Regions from separate parts of the Homo sapiens genome. Here regions 2, 3 and 4 are each linked to region 1. The links come from fine-mapping of genetic effects on gene expression. A gene starts in region 1. Each other region holds a variant in brackets. All regions are shown on one strand. Distances are from middle to middle. Region 1 holds the start of TBX19 (T-box transcription factor 19). Region 2 has its middle 12 kb from the start of MIR557. Region 3 overlaps LINC00970 (long intergenic non-protein coding RNA 970). Region 4 has its middle 45 kb from the start of TBX19.

Region 1 (6,255 bases):
TCATTGTAGAGATCTTTCACTTCTTTGGTTAAGATTATTCCTAGATATTTTATTTTATTTGTAGCTGTTGTAAATGGGATTACTTTTTTGATATCTTTTTCAGATTGTTCACTGTTGGCCTATAGAAGTGCTATATTGATTTTTGTATGTTGATTTTGTATCCTGCAACTTTATTGAATTTGTTTATATATTCTAATAGTTTTTTGGCAGAGTCTTTAGTTTTTTCCAAATATAAGATCATATCATCTGCAAACAAGGATAATTTGACCTCCTGCTTTCCAGTTTGGATGTCTTTTACTTCTTTCTCTTGTCTGATTGCTGTAGCTAGAACTTCTAGTATTATGTTGAATAACAGTAGTGTAAGTGGTCATCCTTGTCATATTCCAGTCTTAGTTCTGTTTTTTCTTCATTTCTCCCTTACTGGTGCTTCAGAACACTTCACATTTCTGTATTGGAATTCCACAAGCGTGTCTTTCTGTCCCTTCTAGATTGTAAAACTATTTGAAGGAAAGATTTTTATCTTACTGGTAGACTGTTTGGGGAGACATTGTTCACTGTATCTCACAGCGTTTTCCTCATAAAGATTTATGGGGGAAATTTCTCACAGGTCAAGGCTTGCTTTTATTTTAGGGACACAGTTTAATGTATGCCAGATTATATTCCCCCACTTTGCATTGGCTGCTTGGAAGCTCAGAGCCACAATTGTGTCACAGTTCTAAGCAGCGCCTTCTCAAAATCTCCACTTATATACCTAATAGTCTTTGCATTAGTCTCCTATTGCTGCTGTACCAAATTACCACAAACTTAGTGGTTTAAAACAACATAAACCTATTATCTTACAGTTTGGGGAATCAGAAGCCCAAAATTAGTTTCACTGGACTAAAGCCAAGGTGTCAGCAGGACTATGTTCCTTCTGGAGGCTTTAGAGGATAATCTATTTCCTTATCTTTCCCAGCTTCTAGAGACTTCTTACATTCCGTGTCTTCTGGCCCCTTTTTCCATCTTCAAAGCCAGGAGTGTAGCATCTTCTCTCCCCTCTGACTTCTGCATCTGTCCTTACATCTTCTTCCTCTGACTTTGATCCTCCTGCCTCCCTCTTATTTTTGCGATTGCACTGGGCTCACCAGATAACCCAGGTTAATCTCCCCATCTCAAGACCCTTAACTGAATCACATTTGAAAAGTCCCTTTTTCCCATGTGAGGTAATACACTCACAGGTTCTGGGGATTCGGAAATGGGTCTCTTTTGCAGGGGGTCCTTATTCAGCCTGCCACATTCTTTTCAGTGTTAGCTGTATGAAACTGAAATGTTTGAGTCTCCTAACCAAACTGTACCTCTGCCTACCCTTCCACCTCCCTCACCTTCCATATCTCAGTAAATGGCCCTGCCATCTAATAATTGTTCTGATCAGGCACATGGTTCTCTGCTCTCCCTCACCCCCATATCCAGTCTCTCATGTTGTTCTGTCATATAGACTTCTAAAGTGTATCTAGAACCTGTACACTTCATTTTTTGGCCACTGCCACTACCCTAGGCTAAGCCATCACCAGCTCTTGCCTGAATTGCTGTCATAGCCTCTAATTTGTTCTTTACTTCAGCTCTTGCCCTTTCCTAGTCTATTCTTCACAAATCGATTAGATTTTTTGCAAACACAAAGCCAATCATGCTGTTTTCCTACTTAATACTCTCCAATTGTTTCCTATCTCATGCTGAAGAACATTCAAATTCTTCATCATGACTTCTAAGGCCTCATGGTCTGGCCTGGCCCTCTCTCAAAGAACATCTCATTCTGCTCTCTTTACCACCACATTCTGGTCACACTGGCCTCCCTGGAGATTTCTACCTGGCTCAAGCCATGCTTCTCACATGTAATTCTTCTGCTTGGCACTCTGCCAACTCTTCCCCGACTACATCTTTGCTGAGCTTTTGGTCTCATCTGAAATGTCTCCTCCTCAAAGAAGCTGTTCTATACAACTCCATCTAACTGGAGTTCCCTACCCTGCTGTGCACAAATTTTTCTTGATCACTTCACCCTTTTAAGTAGCCTTCATAGACTTATCACTATTGATAATTACTTAGTTGTTGTTTACTTTATATCATTTATTTTCTCCATCATATTGTTAATTCTGTAAAGGCGCAGGCCATTTCTGTTTGTTCCTTGCTGTATGTGATGCTTCATAGGTATGTAGCATAGGAGATCCTGAATACATTTTCTGTCATCCTTACCCTGACTTTATCTTACCTTTTTGGGTTTGTTTTCCTTATGTTCTTGTTTTCTTACTTTGTATTGAAATGAGAGAAAAACTCACAACCCCCAGGCTCTACTCAAGGTTGGGGGCCAGAGGAGGTAGAGCTTCCTCTGCTCCTGTCTCTTCCACCCGCCATCCACTCACTCGCCATTAGTACTGTGTGTTGTGGGCAAAAGAAAAGCTTTCTACTAGTGTTTCTTCCCAGGGAATGTGGGATTCATCCTGGAATGCCAAAATAAGGATGAATTGTCTAAAGAGAAAACCAGAATGCCTTTCTGGACCAAAGATTGAAATTGCTCTGCCTAATAATGTAAACAGTTTATTTTCACTGACTGGGGGCAGAGTGTTCCTTAGCGAGATTAATATGATACTAGCTGCTTTTTTGTCTTCCTCTGGCAAAGGCTAGAGATAACAAAAATTGGGGTTCTAGACTCTAGGGAGGAAGGACAACATTCACAGCTCCATTTGTAGGAGGTGAGGAGGGCCCTTGAGAAAAGTGGGGTGTGAGCGAGTATAGGACATTCAGGAGAGAGATGATCAGTAGGGGACACCCTGGGAGAAAGAGATTCTGAGCTCTTTTCTTTTCTCCGGAGCCCTGACCCTTGAGCAGTGGCACACAGAGTGTCTTCCTTTATTCTCTGGTACAGTAGTCATGTTTCTTGGCACAGTGCCTTGGACCTTCCATACATGCTTTCTTCCCTCCAGAGCCTTCGTCTAAGATGCTGGAGAGTAGCTTATAGCCTGGGCATCAAGTTTGTCGATTCTCCCCAGGACCCTTTTCTTTATAGGTGCCACATGTCATGATTTATGCACAAACATGATTTGCCTGACAGTGCAGTCTGGGCCTGGAATAATTTTAATTAATGGGAAAATGGTCCTCAATACACCGATTAGACCTCTTCAGGTACAACAAGATAAAAGCCTGATAATTTGGATGGAGTACTCTTCTTAAATATCTACTCTGTGCACGGCAGCCAATGGGAAAGCCAGGCTCTCTCCCACCTGATCCAATGAGTAATTAAGAGAGGGCTTTTTCTTCCCTACCTCTCCCCTGCCTCCACCCCGCTCCCCAACTAAAGCTTAACAGGTTGGTGGCATAATGTGGAGACTTTTAAGGGGTGTCATCCTAGGAGCTTAGGCAAGAGCCAGGGTATCTTCTCTCCGCTCCCCAAGCACTGTTCAAGTGGGTTTGAAAAGCAGGCAAGTGAGGGAAGGAAGAAGCTAGAAGCAGGCAAGTTGGGTAACGGCTCTCGGCAAAGTTCGAGAAGTGCCTATGGCCATGAGTGAGCTGGGCACTCGGAAGCCCAGCGATGGCACTGTTTCTCATCTGCTCAATGTGGTGGAGAGTGAGCTTCAGGCAGGGAGGGAAAAAGGCGACCCTACGGAGAAGCAACTTCAGATCATCCTGGAGGATGCACCTCTCTGGCAGAGATTCAAGGAAGTCACTAATGAGATGATTGTGACCAAGAATGGCAGGTGAGTTTATCTGCCGCCCCGCGTGGGCTGGCAGGGCTTGGCAGGAGAGATGAGACCCCTTGAATATTGAAGAGGCTGCCGCTCTTCACTCAGAGGCGGCGGGATCTGATTAAACATGCTTACAGGAACGACTGTCTCCAATGGCTTTCCTCCAGCCAACTTAATTAATTTATCTGAGATCATCAGAGGATGAAGCCACCTGTCTTATGTGCATTTTAAATGGAGAAATTCTGGGGAAATTACCATAAAGTGGGGGGCATGCCCCATTGGGATGGGAAAATGGACTTAAATGTCAGAAAATAATATTAATTTGTGACTAGCTGCATACCCTATCGCAGACCTGAGCCCCAACTCCGTCCAGATAAGGTGAAAGACAACTTTATTTGGAAGCTGGATGATCTCCTCCTAAGTATAGCAAACTTGCCAGAAATGTTTGGCTAGTTGAAGATTGGAAGCAAAAGGGCAAATGTAAACTCATTGCCTATCACTTCATCTGCTTCCCCGTGTGTGTTTGTGGTGAGTGTTCATTTGAGATTGTGTGTGTTTGTGATGATATGAAAGCTGTTGCAGTAATAGTGGATGAAAACATATTATTCTGCTTTAGAGAAAAGAAGATGCCTTCTTTCTTATCAGTGCAACAAATTTAGGGATTAACTGAAACTGATCTCTGGTGGCATTTCTCAGATTCTATTAAACCTAGTCTGCTAAGGGGCTGTCCAGGTAATATTAGAAGATTTCACTTCGTAGAGGAGACGCAAATATTTTGAAACAAAATCTCACCGCTCGCAGCTTGGCCAAACTGGCTCCAACATTCAGCTGGTGTTCACATAGCTTTTCATACACATGGTCACAAAAGTACAAAATGCTGAAAGGCATTTTCAGTAGGCTTAGTTTTGGCTGAACTCTAATTATGACACCCTCGAGAGAATTCTGATAAAAGAGAAGAGCCGAGGCCATCTGAACTTCTTTCTGTCAGGCTTTTGTCCTTGTGCAAAGTGCTTCCGTTCCTGATGTCTCGGTTTTCTATATTTTAATAAAGCACAGTATAGAAAATGAACTATTTCTTGTCAATCTTGAAGAGTTATGAACTCGAGAGCTGTTACATGGCATTAAAATGCTTTCTAAAATGAAAGCCATACCTGAATTAGGGCATTTCAAGAAATTGCGATTATACCAGTAGCAGGAATATCAACCTTGCTTGATTTTTATATTTTCTTTCTCAAAATGGGTTCCACACTTATTTCATATAGATTTATTGCTTTTAATATTGTTACTGTAATTATAGTTCCTTCTCTTGACCTGTATTTACACATTATTTTTAGCTTCTTTCATAGAAGAAAACATAAAACATAGTTTTAATTTCACAGAATTACACCAAATTCTTAATTGGATTTAGTCTCTGACCCTTTAAAAATGGGCAAAGATGCAACTGTAAAAATTTTATTATATCTGATTATAGGTAGAACATTCTGCTTATTTTTCTTTGTATTATTGGATACTAATTACAGTAATACCTAGCCTTATGCTATTGATTGGGCTGTCAAATTGGCCATTTATTAAAGTAAAAATAAGTACAATTACCAAGTCAATATATGGTTCATCTATTTCAATAAGGAATAAATAATAAAAGTTTCTGAAACCATGATAAATTCCAATTTAATAATATGTTACATTGGAATGTACTTTTACCATTTAAGAAAAGTTTTATCTTGCCTTTTTATTGCCTATGTAATTTTCCCCTATATTTAAAATGTAATATTCTTCACATCAGCCCAGTGTGGTGGTGTGCTCCTGTTGTCCCAGCTACGCAGGAGGCTGAGGCAAGGGGTCCTTGAGCCCGGGATCAGTCTGGGCAACACGGTGAGACCCTGTCTTTAAAAAGCAAAATGAAATCCTTCATCTTTAACGTCATTTAATATTAGCTACATGAACAATATTCTTTGTAGAAAAAGTCTGATTGCGGTGAACTTGGCTGTTCTTATCTATGGATGTCCTGCTGTGTTTGCCGTCTTCCTATAGATGAAATCTTTTTCTTAAATTCTCCTAAGCTCTCGGAGCCCTTTAGGGTCAAGATTTTGCCAGGAGATAGAAAGTTTCCTTTATACTTTGATTAAAGAAGGGAAGACAAGTCCATAAGAAATTGATGTACTTAATAATGAATGAACTTGGTCTGAAATTACCCCCAACCTCTTAGTTTCTCAGATTAAACCATTAGTCACACTTTACCTTTGTTAATATAGACATCTTTCTTGCTTCATCTTCTTTACTCCCTTCTTCCTTCTCTCTTTTCTCCCTAACTATTTATTCCTCTATGCCTCCTTTCTACCCATTCTCCTATGTCTATAGACTCTTTGTGTCTCCTTCAAATCCTTGCCCTCCACATCAACTCCCGCACCTGGTGCAGGTAGATTTGTGGCCCTTCCCTGTGGAGAAGAATGTTCCTGGTATGATTACCCAGTCCTAGCCTTTTTCATTCATAATGTCACCTGGGCCCTTTTTCATTGACATTGTCACCTTGACTTTTTAAAAA
Region 2 (6,255 bases), 83 kb after region 1:
GACAGGCAGATAAGCAAGTTATGACACAGATAACATTCAAATACCCATTTCTTAAAGAGATTATGCATATTTGAAATAGACGGAGGGATAAATTCCTACAGGAAGAACATATAAGAAATTAACATCATTCTACTTTTTAAAACAGAGCAACTAATTTGTAAGCTGAGGGACATCTGTGGATACAATGTATTGTCATTTCTGCCTGACATTCAGGAATGTGCATTCTGGCTATCTTGGTGGAGAAGAGTGTATAATATATGACTGGATGCTATTGTTGTCAGATGTACCCAGATTTGTTGAAACAAACAACATCCATTCTCAGCCTGTGGGATGGTCTCTGGTTGAGGCAGAGGACTCTGTCCTGGACCTTGACTTTGTCCTGTTCAAGAATTTTATCCTTGACTCATATGAAGAAAGAATATAGAATGAGAACTGTTCGTGGGAAAAGATCTGGGAGCCAAAAGATACAGCAGCTACAGACAATGAGAGTTCAGAGGCAGGCAAGGTCTAGATTGAGTGTAAAGAACTTGCCTGTGTGCTGTTGGGTCTGAGTCTGGAGTCGGTGGCAGACTTACCATTTAAGGAAGACATTGAGAGTCAGGGCTGTGGTCAAAGCAGGTCTTCAAGGTGGTTACAACACTGGAAAGTGAGCATTGCACAAAATTATGGGGTGATTTATGGAAGGGTAGAGAAGAGAGAGTTTTATTCAGATCTTGGAAGATATTTTATATAGAAGTGTGACTGAGTAGTTCTGAGTGGCACCAAAGGCCAGAAATAGTTCTCCAAACCCACTCTTCTTCACTCTTCACTCTCTCAGTTTATAGCAACTCCATTCTAACAGGCCTTCCTCTGAGCATCCTACAAAAAGATCAGCCCATCACTCTTTTTTTCTCCTTACCCATCTCCCTACTGTGTTTTTCTTCATAGCACATGTTAGCACTAAATAACTCTGTGTACTTATTTTTAGGCAGCTTTTGAGAAGCAGTATAAGTTGGTGTATGATGCTAGGCTGTGGAGTCTGACTGCCTGGGTTCAAAGCCTAGTCCTGTTTCTTTCCTGTAACTTTAGGTACGTGTGTTAACCTCTCTGAACTCTATTTCCTCCTCTATGAAACAGGGGATAAGATAATAATTGTATCTACTTTGTAGGGTAGTGCAAGCACTAAATAAATTAATTCTTGCAAAGGACTTAGAAGAATTCCTCCCTAAGTACTCAGTAACCATAACTCAGGTGTTGACGAAGGGGCTGGTGGGTCCTTGATTGGGAGTGAGGTACAGTTTATCTCTGCTTTGGTTGGGATGTTGGACTGTCAAGATGCTCTGTAGTTTCTGAAGAGGGAAATGATCTTATAAAGTGACCAAGGTCATCACTGGGCAAGAAGTGCAACTGAGGAACTATTGAGTCCACTGACCTTATAAGGTGCCAGGTCAGACTCTTCTGGGTTTAAATAACAGAAATAGAATCTGGGGCTTGCAACTCCTTGGGAAGCTGAACAATCAGGCATGACAAGCATGCAGGAATTGTTACAGTAAGTAGCTAGTCAGGTGTGAGCAGGGCAGGAGGTGGATCTGCCTAATAATGTGGGGCAACCATCAGGTGATGATCAGGTGGTTTTCAACTGTCTCTCTAAAATAATAATTGGTCACAGCCAGTGCCAGGGAAAGGCAGTCTCCCTATAGATAGAAAAAACCTGAAACTGGTGATCAGTAGCTTCCTGATAAAATTTCAGGAGTTGGGCGAGTGAGCTCAAGCATGTGCATTAAGAGGCAAAATGGTGGAGTTTAACTTGTATATGACCTTCTGTGGGCATTGCACCGGAATGGGAAGAACGCCTCAAGTGAGCATGTGTAAAGACACTGACGTTCCCCTCCCAAGCACTAGCAGGCCATTACACATGCAGAAAACCCACCCCAAAGGAAGAAGCAGGGAGAAGGGATGCAAGACCCCAGAAGTATGCCAACATATAAAACTCCAAGCCAAAACATCAAATCCCACACTTGTCCTCCAAGACACTCGCTTAGCCCTCTTCCAAGTGTACTTTACTTTCTTTTCATTCCTGCTCTAAAGCTTTTTAATTAACTCTCACTCATGCTCTAAAATTTGCCTCAGTTTCTTCTTCTGCCTTATGTCCCTCAGTCAATTTTTTTCTTCTGAGGAGGCAAGAATTGAGGTTGCTTCAGACTTGTACACATTCGCTGCCGGTAACTCAGATACCCATCACTGAAAACAGAACCGGGTTGGCTCCTGTGGGTCATGAGGCAGGAAACCAAGGTGCTTTTTTTCATAACTCATAGCTTCATTGGACGACTACTCTCTAAGTCACTAGGTTGACTTATGGCTGAAAGAAATCTGTATCTGGCACCATCTGGTGTTTGAAGGAAAGGAAGTGCTGCTGTCAGCATTTGTTCCAACACTTCACCTTATCATGACACTAAGAAAACCTCAAGCTGGCAATGACATCCAAAGGGGTAGAAGCAGTTTTCTAAATGGTACTGGTATCCCTACTGGCATCTCTGGAAGAAAGAGTTCAGTTGGCTCCTGTAGTATGTAGGAGGCAGACTCTCTCTTACCAAGATTCACAAAAATGAGAAATTCTTCCAAATAGAATGTGGGTTTCTGTTATGGTTTGAATACGTCGCTTTCAAAATTCAAGTGGTGCCAATATGACAGTATTAGGCGATGGGAGCCTTTCAGAGGTGATTAGGCCATAAGGGCTCCTCTGTCATTCATGGGATCAAGGCACTTATTAAAGAGGCTTCTGCCAGCATTCAGTTGGCTTGCTAACCTGCTCTTCGGCTCTCTCTTGCCCTCCCACCTTCTGCCATGTGAGGTTGCAGCAAGAAGGTCCTCACCAGACCAAATACCAGGATTTTGATCTTGGACTTTCCAGTCTCCAGAACTGTGAGAAAATAAATTTCTGTTCTTTATAAATTACCAAGTCTCAGGTATTTAGTTTTAGCAGCACAAATGGACTAAGACAGTTAGTTGCTGGCCAGCTGGACAGTGTGGCAGAAGTCCCCTGTGTACTGCCCCACTTCCCCACCACATGAATGCTCATATTCCCATTGAGCTCCAGGTGTTGGGAGGACAGGCTTGCCCTGCAGATCTGGCTCATACTGTGGATTTGCGCTCAGTCCCCATTCAGCAGCTTCTCTTTTTGCTAGTTCTTCAACTCCCAGTTATGCTGGTTGGTGATATGTAATGTGTCACTTTGCTGGCACGAGATTATTTAGTTTTCATGGTAGCCTTAATAATCTTGTGACACCAATTACTGTTCTATAATGGTAAGAAAAATAATGGCTACCATGTTAAAAAATGTATCAGATACCAAGCATGGTACCTGGCTGTTTACATGTGATATTTCTTTTAATCTTCATTTCCTTGAGGAAGATATAATTTTTTCCATTTTGTAAGTGAGGAAACGGAGGTCAGTAATCATTAAGTAACTTTCCCAAGGTCCCAGAGCAAGGAAGAGTAGGAGCTTGGATTTCTAAGCCTTTGTCTGACTCCAGAGCCTGAGCTCTAAACACTGTACTATATTCTCCCATCATGCAGATGGGAAAAAGAAAGGTGAATTTCACCATTACCTTTGTAAAATGCCAATAGTAGATTCCTTAGGCTA[G/C]AGCTTGCTCTTCTCTAACTCACTGTAATGTTTACTTTTGAAGTAGAGAAACTCCGTAAGCATGAAACCAATGTAAGCTTGCCCTCCAGCACAGCCACATAGATACGCTCAAACCACACCAGGCAGACATAAGCCACCCAGTCAAGGTGGACTGTGAGAGGGGCAGGTGGCAGTGTCAGCTCTAATATCTTGTCCTGGCCACAGTCTTTCTTTCCCTACCTGGAAGAACATGCAATGCATTGCCCGCTTCCTTTCCCCTGTCTTGCTTGTCTTGGTTTTTCTCTTCTCCTCCCTTTCCCTCTCCCTCTCCTCTTCTCTCTTTTCTTCCCTTTTTTCTTCTCTCTCCCTCTTGCTTTCTTTCCTTTCTAGCTTAACAATATTCCCCACCTTATCCCCTGGAATTTTGCCCAGGTACTTTAGAAGAATCTCCCTCCTTTACTTCCTTTTCTTTTTTCCTCCTTTATCTCTTTTATTTGTTTAGTCCATTTGTAGACCATTTTTTAAATTATCATTGATAAATGCATGAATATTGCCATCAAAACATCAGTGGAAAGGAAAGTTCTATATCTGAGGGTGAAATTAGGCAACTGGTATAGTCAGGATCAAAAATCCTGGGAGTCATTTTAGAAAAGCCAGGTCTGGCGTGGTGCCTCACTCCTGTAAACCCAGCACTTTGGGAGGCTGAAGCGGGTGGGTCATTTGAGGTCAGGAGTTCGAGACCAGCCTGGCCAACACGGTGAAACTGAAAAAAAAAAAAACCAAAAAACAAAAATTAGCTGGGTGTGGTGGTGGGCTCCTGTAATCCTAGCTACTTGGGAGGCTGAGGCAGGAGAATCGTTTGAACCCAGGAGATGGAGAGTGCAGTGAGCTGAGATTGTGCCAGTGTACTCCAGCCTGGGTGACAGCGTGAGACTGTCTCAAATAAAAGAAAAAAAAAAAAGAAAATCCACACAAGTTTTTAGATACATCTGAATACAATTTTAATGAAAACTGCTTTTTTCTCAAGCACTGAAATGAGTAAAAACATTTAGTGATGGGCAGTCGGCTAAGACTGGGAAAGCAGAAAAATAATTAAATAAGAAAAAAATCATGCACTCAAAGAACTCCCTATCTAGTTTTACCCATTATTTAAAATCATCTTTGACATTCATTCCTAGTATCAGAGTTATTTGTCTCTCCCTACTAGGTGACTTTTCTTTCAACTACATTTTGGATGGGAATTTTTGCAGGTGGTTTTGGAACGCAGCCACCTTTTATAAAAACAATTCTATGGGAAAATGCATTTTTAAGTTCACAGAAATGGACTTGGACACGAGTGGAACACAATCCCTTTGTACATGAAGGCTGCTCTGTGAGCTTCATTGGACGACTACTCTCTGTCACTAGGTTGACTTACGGCTGAAAGAAATCTGTATCTGGCACCACCTGGTGTTTGAAGGAAAGGAAGTGCTGCTGTCAGCATTTGTCCCAACCTTTCACCTTATCATGACACTAAGAAAACTCCAAGCTGGCAATGACATCCACAGGGGTAGAAGCAGTTTTCTAAATGGGACTGGTATTTCTACCAGCCATTCAGTTTGATCTTTGGGTTTTAGCTTTATGTCTGTCCTCTTGTTACAGCCCTTCCCTGCCACCTTTCCTGGCTCCTGCCACTCTGTGACACTTTCCTCTACCACGAGTGGGTCACTTTATCCACAGAAATCATGTGGTGGCCTGGGAATGCTGTAGCTGTGGAGTGGCCGGCAGGGGAAGGGAGACGAGGGCCCCTGAGAATCTTGGTTGTGCACTGACAGCAATTGGAGCAGGGTGAAATAGATAAGGGCCATGAGAGGGCTGTGTCAGCTGTGGCTAGCACTGTTAGGATGGTAATGATGATGATGATGCCAGATGGAAAGCTTGGGCAGGGAAAGAATGGAGGAAAGGAAAGAGGGGAGCGTCAGATTCTTCTGTTACTGGAAGGCTCGTGAAAGAAACAGCAGTACTGGGTATTTCATAATACATGCCACTGGGTGAGAAAATGAGTTTCCTGAAATTATTATTTTAAAAATGGCAGTAAAGAGAGTCTACTTAAGTAAAATTAGTCATGAAAAGTATGGGGTCCACAAATCTGGAGGTAGATTTAAATCAGGCAGAGGGCCCAAAAGAGGATGGGGCAGTTTGATAGATTATTCTCTTTACATTTCCTCTAAGCTTTGATTTTTTTCAAAACATCAATGCTGTGACCATGGACTTATGGAGATGAGGTTGGGAGGTGGTAAGGAGAGGAGAGCTCAGAATGTGTAGATCTCTTAGCTGAAAGAGCTGCTGGTGTACAAGGGAGGTGACTGCATAGTTATTTATGAGACCATCGGCAAACTCGGAGGCATCTTGTTTTTTGAAAACTATCTTCAGGAAAACCAGGGCTCCCTAAATATTATGGCACATAGCACCATTTTCTGAACACTTATGAATGCTCGGAAGATATATAATTCTGTCAGAGAGTTACTTATTTAGCCAACCTGTGTTTACTCAATACAATTCTCTGGCTAACAGAATAGGAGGCAGGGGGTGAGAGAAAGGTGTAAAAATAAAGATAGGGCCCCTTTCTTGAGAAGCACATATTCCTTATGAAAAGACGATACTAATACGTAGGG
Region 3 (6,255 bases), 680 kb after region 1:
CTTGTTCTGGTTTTCAAAGGGAATGCTTCTAGCTTTTGCCCACTCAGTGTGATATTGGCTGTGGTTTTGTAATAAATAGCTCTTATTATTTTGAGATACATTCCATGAGTACCTAGTTTATTGAGAGATTTTAGCATGAAAGAGTGCTGAATTTTGTCAAAGGCTTTTTCTGCATCTATTGAGACAATTGTGTGGTTTTATTTCATTGGTTCTGTTTATGTGATGGATTACGTTTATTGATTTGTGTATGTTGAACCAGCCTTGCATCCTAGAGATGAAGCCAACTTGATTGTGGTGGATAAGCTTTTTGAGTGCTGCTGGATTCGGTTTGCCAGTATTTTATTGAGGATTTTCACATCAATGTTCATCAGGGATATTGGCCTGAAATTTTCTTTTTTGTTGTGTCTCTGCCAGGTTTTGGTATCAGGATGATGCTGGTCTCATAAAATTAGTTAGGGAGCAGTCTCCCTTTTTCTATTATTTGGAATAGTTTCAGAAGGAATGGTACCAGCTCCTCTTTTTACCTCTGGTAGAATTCAGCTGTGAATCCATCTGTTCCTGGGCTTTCTTTGGTTCATAGGCTATTACTTACTGCATCAATTTCAAAACTTGTTATTGGTCTATTCAGGGATTCGACTTCTTCCTGGTTTAGTCTTGGGAGGGTGTATGTGTCGAGGAATTTATCCATTTCTTCTAGATTTTCTAGTTTATTTGCATAGAGGTGTTTACAGTATTATCTGATGGTAGTTTGTATTTGTGGGATCACTGGTGATATCCCCTTTATCATTTTTTATTGTGACTATTTGATTCATCTCTCATTTCTTCTTTATTAGTCTTGCAAGGAGTCTATTTTGTTAATCTTTTCAAAAAACCACCTCCTGGATTCACTGATTTTTTTTGAAGTTTTTTTGCGTCTCTGTCTCCTTCAGTTCTGCTCTGATCTTAGTTATTTCTTGTCTTCTGTTAGCTTTTGAATTTGTTTGCTCTTGCTTCTCTAATTCTTTTTAATTGTGATGTTAGGGTGTTGATTTTAGATCTTTTCCGCTTTCTCCTGTGGGTATAATTTCCTTCTAAACACTGTTTTAGCTGTGTCCCAGAGATTCTATTATGTTGTGTCTTTGTTCTCATTGGTTTCAAACAACTTATTTCTGCCTTAATTTCATTATTTACCCCATAGTCATTCAGGAGCAGGTTGATCAGTTTCCATGCAGTTGTATGGTTTTTGAGTGAGTTTCTTAATCCTGTGTTCTAATTTGATTGCACTGTTGTCTAAGAGACTGTTATGATTTCCGTTCTTTTGCATTTGCTGAGGAGTGTTTTATTTCCAATTACGTGGTCAATTTTAGAGTAAGTGCGATGTGGTGCTGAGAAGAATGTATATTCTGTTGATTTGGGGTGGAGAGTTCTGTAGATGTCTGTTAGGTCTGCTTGGTCCAGAGCTGAGTTCAAGTCCTGAATATCCTTGTTAATTTTCTGTCTCATTGATCTGTCTAATATTGACAGTGGGGTGTTAAAGTCTCCCACTATTATTGTGTCAGAAACTAAGTCTCTTTGTAGTTCTCTAAGAACTTGCTTTATGAATCTGGGTGCTCCCTAGGAGTGTTTTTAATTCAACAGGTGTCAAAGTCTCAAGCTACTAGGATAAAACTGCCACACTTTGTTATCACCCAAATGAAAAGGGAGGATATTGGGGGCATTAAAGCTTATCTGAAACTTTGGAATCAGACAAGTCTAATATTACATTTTAGCTTCTGTCACTTAAGAGTTTTATGGGCTTGGGAAACCCACTTTTAATTTCCCTGAATCTGTATTTGCTCATCCTTAATTAGGATATCTCTTTCATGGTGTTTTAAATCAGTGATCCCCAACCTTCTTGGCACCAGGACCAGTTTTGTAGAAGACAACTTTTCCACAGATGGGCTCAGGGGATATGGTTTTGGGATGATTCAAGAACATTACATTTATTGTGCACTTTATTTCTATTATTATTACATTGCCATATATAATACAATGATTATACAACTCACCATAATGTAGAATCAATGGAAGCCCTGAACTTGTTTTCTTGCAACTAGAAGGTCCCATCTAAGGGTGATGGGAGATAGTGACAGATCATCAGATTCTCGTAAGGAGCATGTAACCTAGATCCCTTGCATGTGCAGTTCACAATAGGGTTCATGTTCCTATGAGAATCTAATGCTGCCATTGACCTAATAGAAGGTGGAGCTCATGTGGTAATGCGAGTTATGGGGAGCAGCAGTAAATACAAATGAAGCTTGGTTCACTTGCCTGCTGCTCACCTCCTGCTGTGCAGCCCCATTCCTAGCAGTCCACAGATGTGGGGTTGGGAACCTCTCTTTTAAATAAGTAAATTAAGATCATCCAATCCCAATGAAGGGCCTGGTTCATGGGTGCTTGATGGATGTTAGTTTCCTTCTTCTTTTTAATTCATCAGATGCCCCTCACATAAGTGGACCACCATAGCTGGCAGCCATTCACATTAATACTGAAAATCAATCAACCAACCAACATGCATTAAGGGCCTACTTTATGTAAGGCCCTGTGTGGGACCCCAGGGCGATATACACGACCATGTCTCCATTCAAGGAGATGTCGACCTTATTAGGGAATCAGTATGTGAACATATGAAAAACTAAATGACAATAAAAGATAGTTTATCAACACCAAAGTCATAAAACTCACCCTAATTGCCATATGACTCACTGCCCACTTTCAAGAGGTAAAGGGTCCTATAAGCTAGATTGAAATGGATGGTTTCATGCAGGCAAAGGATTTGAGAAGGGCTTTGAGAGATGGATTAGATTTAGGCAACCTGTGAGGAGGGAGAGTTGTAGTTTATTCTGAGCAAACTTTTGGATATTTCCCCCCAGTGACTTTCAAACATCTCAGGTACTTTTAGGGGAAGTGTTCTGCTAAAGACAGGCAAAGTCAGCCACGTGAACACACCACTAAACATCGCCATCTCCACCTCCTCCCCTCTGACAGCCTGCCTCCTTGCCAGGCTGCCGCCCTCCTCCTTCCCCTATCTCAACATGAGACAAAACAGCCTTTCTTTTTTTCTGGGATTATTTAGAAGCAGTTTCCCATAATTACAGTAATCTTATCTTCTTTGAATTCACCAAAATTACCCCTTTTCTTTATATTAGCACCACTGCTACATGACAGACATTATTTGTAAGCTTTGTGCCATGGTGCAATGTTGTTTTTTTAAAGTGACATCTGCTCAAATAAATTAATGTTCCTATCTAACTGACTCACTTGGTGAGAACATGTCCACATGCCAATGTGAATGCGAGGGGAGTGGGGGGAAATGCAGGAAGAGGAAAGCATCTGGAAGAATATTTTCTGGTGTTTTAGATTAAGAATAAGACTATTTTATTTCCTACAGAAAAGCAGTGGACATTAGTTGAAGCAACAGCAATGACTAATTGTCTCATAATGTCTGAAACATGCCACGTTTCAAGATGAGTGAAGATGGTCATGCTTTTCAAGTACATTTTGATGAACTTGGTGATTCTCAC[C/T]GACATTTCCTTGTTCTCAACAACCTGAAAATTTCTCGGTTCATCTACCCTCCAGCTATGCCCTTCTGAAGTGAACCTCTTTGAGAAAGCGCTGAGATTCCATCTGCACCTTCCTGCATTCACAACCTGTGTTTTCACACATCCAGTGGCTTCTGCTCCCAGAAATCCATCCTCAAATGGCCCTGAGAAGTCAGAGGAGGATGTGGTTCCCTGTTAGGGTCCATTTATTCATCATTTAGTCTATTTACTGAGGTCCTACTATGTGCCAGGCCTTGGGGACACAAAGATGGTCCTACTATGTGCCAAGCCTTGGGGACACAAAGAGTTCTGTCCTCCAAGAGCTCACAGTCTTATATGGCCATGATCAAGAAAAGTACCAGGGCACCATGGGAGACTGACACTCAAAGCAGAGCACAAGGAAGGGGGTAGATAAGGCTTCTCCGAGGAAGTGACACCTGAGTGGGATGTAAAATATTCATTTCTGCTTACAAACTTCAATCATCTCACAATGACCGTTTCATAATATCCAGACTCCCTCGTCTGGATTTCCAGGCTCCGTATACACTGATCCTCTAAACATCCCTACCCCATCTCTCTCCCCACCATCATGAATCACCAGCTCCTGCTGGGAAAGCCTATTCCCTTGCTTCCCCTGCATACCCCTTTATTCTTAACTCGGGGTATTTGCTCTCTTTATTCTTAACTCTGGATCTTTGCTCATGTTTTCTGTCTAAAATGAACCATCCACTACCACCTCTACCAACACCATTAGCAATAAGTATTCAGATACACATCGGTTTCAGGGACCAGCTTATTTTCTTTATGAAACTTCCTGCAATCACCCCAGTTCTTTACGAAACTTTCTCTATCCACCTCAAACATTTTAGAGCTTCTCTGAATTTCCATAGTACTTAAGCTATAAGTATAACTTAGACAATACATGTAAAGTAATAGTTACAAACTCATAAAGCACAATGCAAGCATGAGGTGTGGCCATTATCTTAAACTGATAAGGGAAATTTTGATGTCCCTCACCAACACTAAATTTGTTTTCTTAGGCAAGTAGTTTCTTTAGCTATAAAACTGAGAAAAACATATTTACATTGCAAAACATATTTACATTACATTATTGTGAAGATTAACCAGATACATTGACATGCATACAAAATGCCTGGTTTGTCATAGGCAGCTCTTGATGGAATGGTAATAGCAGTAGGAATGTTGTTATTTCTCAAAGAGGATAAGTATATTTGTTCCTTTTTGTTCAATAGACCAGGTTAGGTGTGTGTATTAAGGTGGTAAGAGGCAGAAAATTTGTCTTATGAAAAAAGTTTATCATGAAGGATAAAAGTAAACATCCTTCAGAGCTCTGCAACTTTTATCTCAAAACTCCAAAGAGAATTATAGTATTGTAATGGTTGATGATTCCCCATTTCCTGTGTCACTGGTTCCTGGCAGGAAGACAATGGCTTGGCCCTGACACTCCCTTCCAGACTATGGGATCATTGTTCTCTAGTAGACAGTGTTTATCAAAAATGGAGGCACTTGCTGGCTGAGGGAAGTAGAGATGAAGGAGAGAGCAGAGTAGCAGCTGCTCTTTTTGGAAGGTAGTGCGTTTCTGACCCTAGAATCAAAGGGTTCTCCTGTGTGGAACTTGGATGCTGAGCCATCAGCAAAACTTGAAGAATGGTTGTCAACGTCGGACATTTTACAGCCCGCCCAGCCAGGACATTTGACAATGTCTAGAGACATTTCTGGTTGTCACAACTTAGGCAGGATGGGGGGATTCTATTGGCACCTAATGAATAGAGGCCAGGGATGCACTAAACATCGTACAATGCACAAGACAGCACCTCAACAAAGACGTTTCTGGCCCAAAATATCAACAGTGTTGAGGGTGAGAAACCCTGAGTTAGAAACAGTTGTAACCCACCATCCTAGGTTCTGCTAATCCTAGCTGAGTGATCAGAGCTCCAAACTGTTTCTCCCCTGCGTCTTCTCTAGACCAGAGTCCAGAATGACCACACTGGAATTAATTAATGGAAATCAGTCAGCAAAACTTCAAGATCTAGTACAAATGTGACTTCCTCTATGAATTCACCCTAGGTAGAGTACCCCTTCCTGTGTCAGCCAGGGTCTGACTGCCTTAACTACTTACAACTGGAGTGTTTTAATATAAAGAATTGATTCCAGGTGATGGAAAAGTTAAACCCAAACAGGATGGTGAAGCAACCTAGAGATTAACAGCCAGCAAGAAGCTATTACCACCCAAGGACTGGAAAGAAGGAAGTCAGTGTTACTAGAACCCGTGGCCAGCTGGAGCAGATCCATAAAGTGCAGTCATCACTGCAGCCACTTACAAGACAAGCAGATAGGAAGAAATGCTTCAGCTTCTCCCTTTTTCCCATTGGCTGAATCCAAGTAAGGTCACTGACAGGGAAACCTAGGAGATGCAACCTGTAAGATCAGTCCTCAAACAAAACAAGAGGAATGAAAAAAAGAGGAGGAACAGGCCAGGCACGCTGGCTCATGTCTGCAATCCCAGCACTTTAGGAGGCCAAGGCGGGCAGATCACGAGGTCAAGAGATCAAGACCATCCTGGCCAACATGGTGAAACCCCATCTCTACTAAAAATACAAAAATTAGCTGGGCGTGGTGGCACGCACCTGTAGTCCCAGCTACTCGGGAGGCTGAGGCAGGATAATCACTTGAA
Region 4 (6,255 bases), 46 kb after region 1:
CACGCCCAACTAATCTTTTTTATTTTTCGTAGAGATGAGGATCTCATGATGTTGACCAGGCTGGTCTCAAACTCCTGGGCTTAAGTAATTCTTTCACCTCGGCCTCCCAAAGTGCTGGGATTACAGATGTGAGCCACCATGTCTGGCAATACACCATACTTTATTTCTCTTTTTGATAGGCGTTCTAAAAATGTATGTATTAGAAGTCCTGTGTTTGTAAGGCAGAAACCCTTAGCAACACCATAAGCAGCAAATACACTTGTAATGTCTCGGATATAAAAGAAACTTAATACAAGTCTCCCTAAATTTGACAATTTTAGAAATATACATGAAATTAGCAACAACTGCTTGTGACATGGAAAGAAACCGTTCTAAAATATTAATACCCCCAAATCCCACCACGTTAAATCTTGATTAGTCATTTTAGAGATAGACTAAATTACTTTTCTAGTTTCTCTATGGAAAATAATATTACAAAAATCACTGTATGAAAAGGCAATCAGAGTATATAGCTAACAAACATTGGTACTAAATGAATGTAATTGTTATGTCATTTCTGGCAACATAGAATCAAGGCACCTCCCAGCCTCTCCTACAGATGTGTGTGCTATTTCCATGCCTTTTCCTGCCTTATGGTGGCTGCTGGCAATTTTGGCATTCCATGGCTTGTAGATGCCGTACTCCAATCTCTGCCTCCATTATCACCTGGTGTTCTCCCTGTGTGTCTGTCTGTTTCCTCTTTTTATAAAGACACTAGTCACTGGATTAAGGCCCATCTTAATCCAGTGTGATCTCATTTTAACTAATTATACCTGCAAATATGTTATTTCCAGAAAGGTCAAATTCTGAGTTTCTGGGTGGATATGAATTTTGAGGGACACTATTCAACCCAGTACAGAGTATAAGCAAACTGTCCGTGTAAATAATTCAGTGTAATCCACTTAAAATGTACCAGGGTAGAAAAGCATCTTCCCAGTTCTGTGCCTCCATGGGGTGATATTTACATTCTTGTTTTTATGCAAAGACCCAAGAGCATACAAATTCTATCCTTCCTCCCTCCCTCACATTTATCCTCTGTAGACATTGAAAGTCCTGTGAAAAAGCTGAAGCCACAAATAATGTGCTCCAATACGGTGTGACTTCCAGGAAGTGCTCTTAAAGGGAGGGTTGAGAACTTCTTAGCCTGGATTCCCTTTGCTTGTTGGCGGAATGCAGATGTAATAATTAGAACTTGAGCAGTTATCTTGAACCATGAGGTAGAAGCCACAATTTGAGAATCAAATTATCTTGAACTATGAGGTAGAAGCCACAAGATAGAAGGACTATGAGTTCACCATACTCTTTGAGTTATCATATCAGCCCTAGACTTCTTACTTCTGGGATTTGTTTTCATAGGACAAAATAACCTTCTATCTTAAAGTAAATTATTTTGGGTTTTGTGTTATTTGCAGCAGTGAAACTATTCCTAAGTTTTACAACTGCTTGTTGTTTTTTAAAAAATTTAAATAATTGTAAATATACTCATTTTATATGCTGGTCTGATTATCATACTATTATTCAAAGTTCTTGGGATCTAATTCTGCAGTTTATTGTGTCTATTGACTCACACTCATGAATGATTTCTTATTGTATATTTGTACTTTTGATGGGTAGCTCATCTTCGTTGGAGGATTTCTCTCTCTGTCTCTGTCTCTCTCATTGCCTGTGATTTGAGTCATGAGTGTTTTTTCAGAATGGCTTATATTTGCTTTCATTCTGTACCTCTGACGTATCACCATTTGTTCTAGCTGCTATTGCTGCATAACTAACCCCCTCAAGTGTAGTGACACAAAACCACCATTTAATTAGCTCATGGAGTCTACTGGACAAAACTTCAAAAAGGGCACAGTAGGGACGGCTGGTCTCTACTCCGTGGTACCTGGGACCCTAGCTGAGAAGAACCAAAGCCTGGGGGCTGAGTCATATAAAGCCTCCTTCACTCACATGTCTGGTGGTTGACACTGAATGTTATCTGGGACCTCAGCTAGAACTGTTGGCTGGAATGCCTACAGCCTACATGTGTCCTCTTGAAGTGACTGGGCTCATGGCATGGGGCTGGGTTCTAACAGTGAGCATCCAGAAGAGAGCCAGAAAAATCTGTCTTACCTTTTATTACCTAGCCTTGGAAGGCATAGGGTATCACTTCTGTCATGGTTGCAGCTCACCCAGATTCAAGGGTGAGGGAAAGTGGACTCCATCTTTTGATAGCAGATATGTCAAAGGGATTTCGTAAGAAGAGCATGTGGCATGGGAAATGTTCTTATGGCCATTTTTGAAAAAAACAAAACAAAACAAAACAATCTACCAGATCAGATCAGGACCAATTTTAATGTTAATTTCTTACCTTGGGGTTTTCTTGTCTCCACATGTTGAACCAGTGCTAAATCCAGTCTCAAGTTCAAGATTTTAAACTATCCACCCCTAAATTTGAGATCTCAGTTTGAGATTTTAAACTATCAAGGAACAATTTTTCTTCCTCCTAGAGCCTAGACAAAAATGGAGAACCTTCCACATAATTCTTCTTGTATCAGTTGGTGGTCTTTCCCAAGGTCAATTGACAATGTAGACATCTGAAGGTCTTGATTTTTGTAACTGCCTCAGTTTTATATTTTTAGGCATCTTTCTCCTTCACTGGCTGAAGCTCCCCAAGGAC[A/G]GGCCCTGTGTCTCCTTCATCTTTGTATTTCTGGCAACTTACACAAATGCCCATTACATTGTAGAGGCTCAGTGAGTGTTTCTGAACTGAACTAAACTCTCTTTCCTTTATTCTGATATCATGTTTCTGACCTTTACAGAGTATCCAATTATTCCTGCTGACCTCATTATTTTATCTTTTTTTTTTTTTTAAAGAGTTATTTGTTGTTTGAAGACTTTCTGTGATTACTGGAGGTACAGGACCATAGATGTCCAATAAATTAATCATGTTATGAGTTTAGCATTTAGTTGATTCCTTTTATTTGCAATGCAACATGCATAAATATTTCAGTGTAATGCACTTAAAAGGTACCAGGGTAGAAAAGCATCTCCCCAGTACTGGGTCCCCATGGAGTGATGCTTACATTCTTGTTTTTATCCAAATACAAAAGCAAGTACAACTTTCATCTTCCCTCCCACCAATTTATGCTCTATAGACATTGCAAGTCCTGTGAAAAGGCTGTGCTATGCTTAGTCTCAATCCTGACTGAGTGCTATCAGTTATCACTTTAGCAAAGCTGGTGTGACTTGTGGATACAAAAAATGAAGAGTGGAAGATGAATGAAGTTAGGAGAAGTAAGCAACACAGAAATGCATTTTAAATAAAATTTTATGATCGCTAAAGATAAACTTACCATTATTCATGGGAGAATCTTCTTAATAACAATTCCCAGCATAATCTTTCTGTGTCTCTCTCCAATCCCTCATCAGATGTTTCCCATTGGTTCTGATATGATTGACTCTGAAGTTTCCATATTAATGGGGAGAGTGAGAGAATTTAAAAAATTGACAATTACAAATAATTCCCAAAACCCACTTTAATCATTAGTTTAATCTGTTGTCTCCCACCTCCAACTTTATTGAGGATTGCTTGTTTAAGCAGCAAACATTGGCTTGGAATTTCATCCCCTTCCTTTTCCTTTAATAATGTTAATGGTAATAAAAATAATAATTGATATTTATATTGTGCTTTAGAGCTTACAATACATTTTTCACATTATTTGGACAACTAAGCTGTGAGAGACCCATAAAAAACTGTCTCACAACACTGCTGTCATTCATGTTCTTATTCTCATATTTTTGGATTATGGCTATGGCTTCCCCTCTCTGTCTTTAGGCCATCTTACAATTGCTATGAGCATCATCTTCCTAAAGTTCCATGTGAGTTGCGTCACCACTCTGCTCAGAAACCTTCAATAACTCACTACTAGAAATATAAAAGCCAATTTTCTTAGCCTCCTGCGGAAAACCTTCTAAAATTGACCTCAACATGCCATTCCAGTTTAATTGCCCAGTATTCTTTTACATAAAACTTATGTTCTAGCCAATCTACTATTACCCTTTCCACATCTTAGTTTTGGCTCTTACTGTTTCTCCACGTGGAACTGCTTTCTTTAATGTTTTCCTATTAAACCGCATTTAACTTTTAAGGTCCAATACACAATCCGTCTAACTTATGAAGCTCTCATGGCTGACAAAACAGATCTTTCTCTCTTTAAGTTTCTTTACCACATTGTTCATATGATACTTATTTTTGATTAAAAAGAAATGGTTTATTTGGGCCGGGTGTGGTGGCTCACACCTGTAATCCCAGCACTTTGGGAGGCTGGGCGGATGGATCACAAGGTCGGGAGTTCAAGGCCAGCCTGAGCAATATGGTGAACCCCATCTCTACTAAAAATACAAAAATTAGCTGGGCATAGTGGTGCACACCTGTAGTCCCAGCTACTCAGGAGGCTGAGGCAGGAGAATCGCTTGAACCCGGGAGGTGGAGGTTGCAGTGAGCCAAGATCGCGCCATCGCACTCCAGCCTGGGTGACAGAGCGATACTCCATCTCAAAAAAACAAAATCAAAAACAAAAACACCCCCCAAAAAACCAAAAACCAAAAACAAACAATTATATAGGTATGTGTCTTTGTACAGGATCCTAGCTTCTGTGATAGATTAGAGCCCTGAATCTCAGTGAATTCACACAGTAAGACTTCAGTTTTTACTTATGTGACATTCTGACACGGCTTCTGGATTGAAGAAACCATTTCGTGGCTCTTCCATTTTTAACACAGGCTCTCAAGTTTCCCTTGGTGGTAGTGGTGGTGGATGTCTTCTCTCTTTTACCTCAGCCAGCAGGAGAAAGTACATAGACAAAGTGTATATGGATGATTCTTCTCAGCAAACACTGGAAACAATGCCTATTGCTTCCTTTCATATTCCATTAGAAATCCATCACAGGCCACGAGAGGGGGTGGGAAATGTCTAGGCCTGTGCCCACGAAGAAGAGGAAACGTGTTTGGTGACCAGCTGGGCCGTTTCTTTACAGATTGTGATAATTTGCCTCTTTTCCCATTGTTCCTTTATCAACCCTTAAAGAAAGACACTTTCTCTTTAGGAGATTCTGTCCCCTTGAAGAAGTTTTGGGGACAAAAAATTCTGCCACCTCTCCATTTCACCTGCTTTTTTCTATGGGAGAAGAAATAACATATAGGGAACCCAGTGACAATCAGATGCCCACTGGACCAGGTTAAGCAGAGATTAAGGGAGGGACCCAGGTCGTGTCGTGCCTTAAATTGAACAATTTTGGAAATGCAAAAATTATGACTATTGATTTGATAGTGTCCCCCTAACATCTTGGACAGATCTTTGCAAGTAAGAGCTCTGATACTTAAACCTCCTTAGCTTAGTAATAATCCTGTCTCTGGCTGCTACCACATTGGTAAAGCCACTGAATCCCCCGTCTATACTCTGCCACCCTCCAGTGTGTAAGGAGGCTGCACTCCCCTTTCTCTTGTTCTCTAGGTCAGATCAATTGCCACAGGCCTGCCCTAAGGTCTGAGTTGAGACAAGAGCTTCATTTTGATTTCAAGTCTTAGCTGTATTCTCTGATTCAATGTAGTAGCTTTGTCATGTGTGAATTTTGCTAGGCTGAACTGTATTTCCCAGAATCTTTTTCTTATATATTGCCACTTAGGGGATCCCCCAGAGAGAGTCTAATGGGAAGTGAAGCAGCATCCACGTTTCAGCTCATACAAGTTCTCGCTTATCCATTGGAGCGAGGCGGTGGCTCGGCCTGCAATTGCTCCAGCCTATCTGACTCCTCCTTCAGCTTCTCTGACTCCTGGGCCAGGTGTGTCTGTTTAGTTCCAGTGATGATGGGCCCTGGTTTCTGTAGGACACTCATACTATTCATGTTGAGGTAACAAGAACTGACACTAGTTATTTATCTGTGTGGGTTTTGGCTCATGCTTGTGGGTTCTAGCTTATTCTTGTTCTCCACTGTACACTCACTCCTTCCCCAACTGCTTGCCCTGAGGACTTCAAGTTCCAGCATCAGATATGAAGACAACAATTTTACAGAAACTGCTTAGCCAGCTCCCCCAGTTGCAGAAGGTCATATCCCTTTAATCTATCTAACTATCTATCTATCTATCTATCTATCTATCTATCTATCTATCTGTCTGTCTACCTATCTATCTATTTATCCATCAATCATCTATGTATTACTCATGTGTTTGTGGTGATGCTGGCAT

The links. PIP is the estimated chance that this variant, and not a neighbour inherited with it, causes the effect. A credible set is the group of variants that fine-mapping cannot tell apart.
Region 2: its variant is the best candidate, but not a certain one, in a credible set for the expression of TBX19 in whole blood (INTERVAL, PIP 0.61).
Region 3: its variant is the best candidate, but not a certain one, in a credible set for the expression of TBX19 in NK cells (Gilchrist 2021, PIP 0.50).
Region 4: its variant is the best candidate, but not a certain one, in a credible set for the expression of TBX19 in whole blood (INTERVAL, PIP 0.67).

The regions. Positions count from the first base shown.
Region 1 is chr1:168,277,569-168,283,823 of GRCh38, forward strand. TBX19 (T-box transcription factor 19) reads left to right here and starts at 3,309. Exons shown (of 8, transcript NM_005149.3): 1 at 3,309-3,725. The coding sequence starts at 3,523.
Region 2 is chr1:168,360,869-168,367,123 of GRCh38, forward strand. No RefSeq gene overlaps it. Among named protein-coding and RNA genes, the nearest start is that of MIR557, 12 kb to the right of the region's middle. The variant G/C (reference allele first, on the strand shown) is at 3,623.
Region 3 is chr1:168,955,761-168,962,015 of GRCh38, forward strand. All of the region lies in intron 3 of LINC00970 (long intergenic non-protein coding RNA 970), which reads right to left. Among named protein-coding and RNA genes, the nearest start is that of LINC00970, 130 kb to the right of the region's middle. The variant C/T (reference allele first, on the strand shown) is at 3,543.
Region 4 is chr1:168,323,214-168,329,468 of GRCh38, forward strand. No RefSeq gene overlaps it. Among named protein-coding and RNA genes, the nearest start is that of TBX19, 45 kb to the left of the region's middle. The variant A/G (reference allele first, on the strand shown) is at 2,693.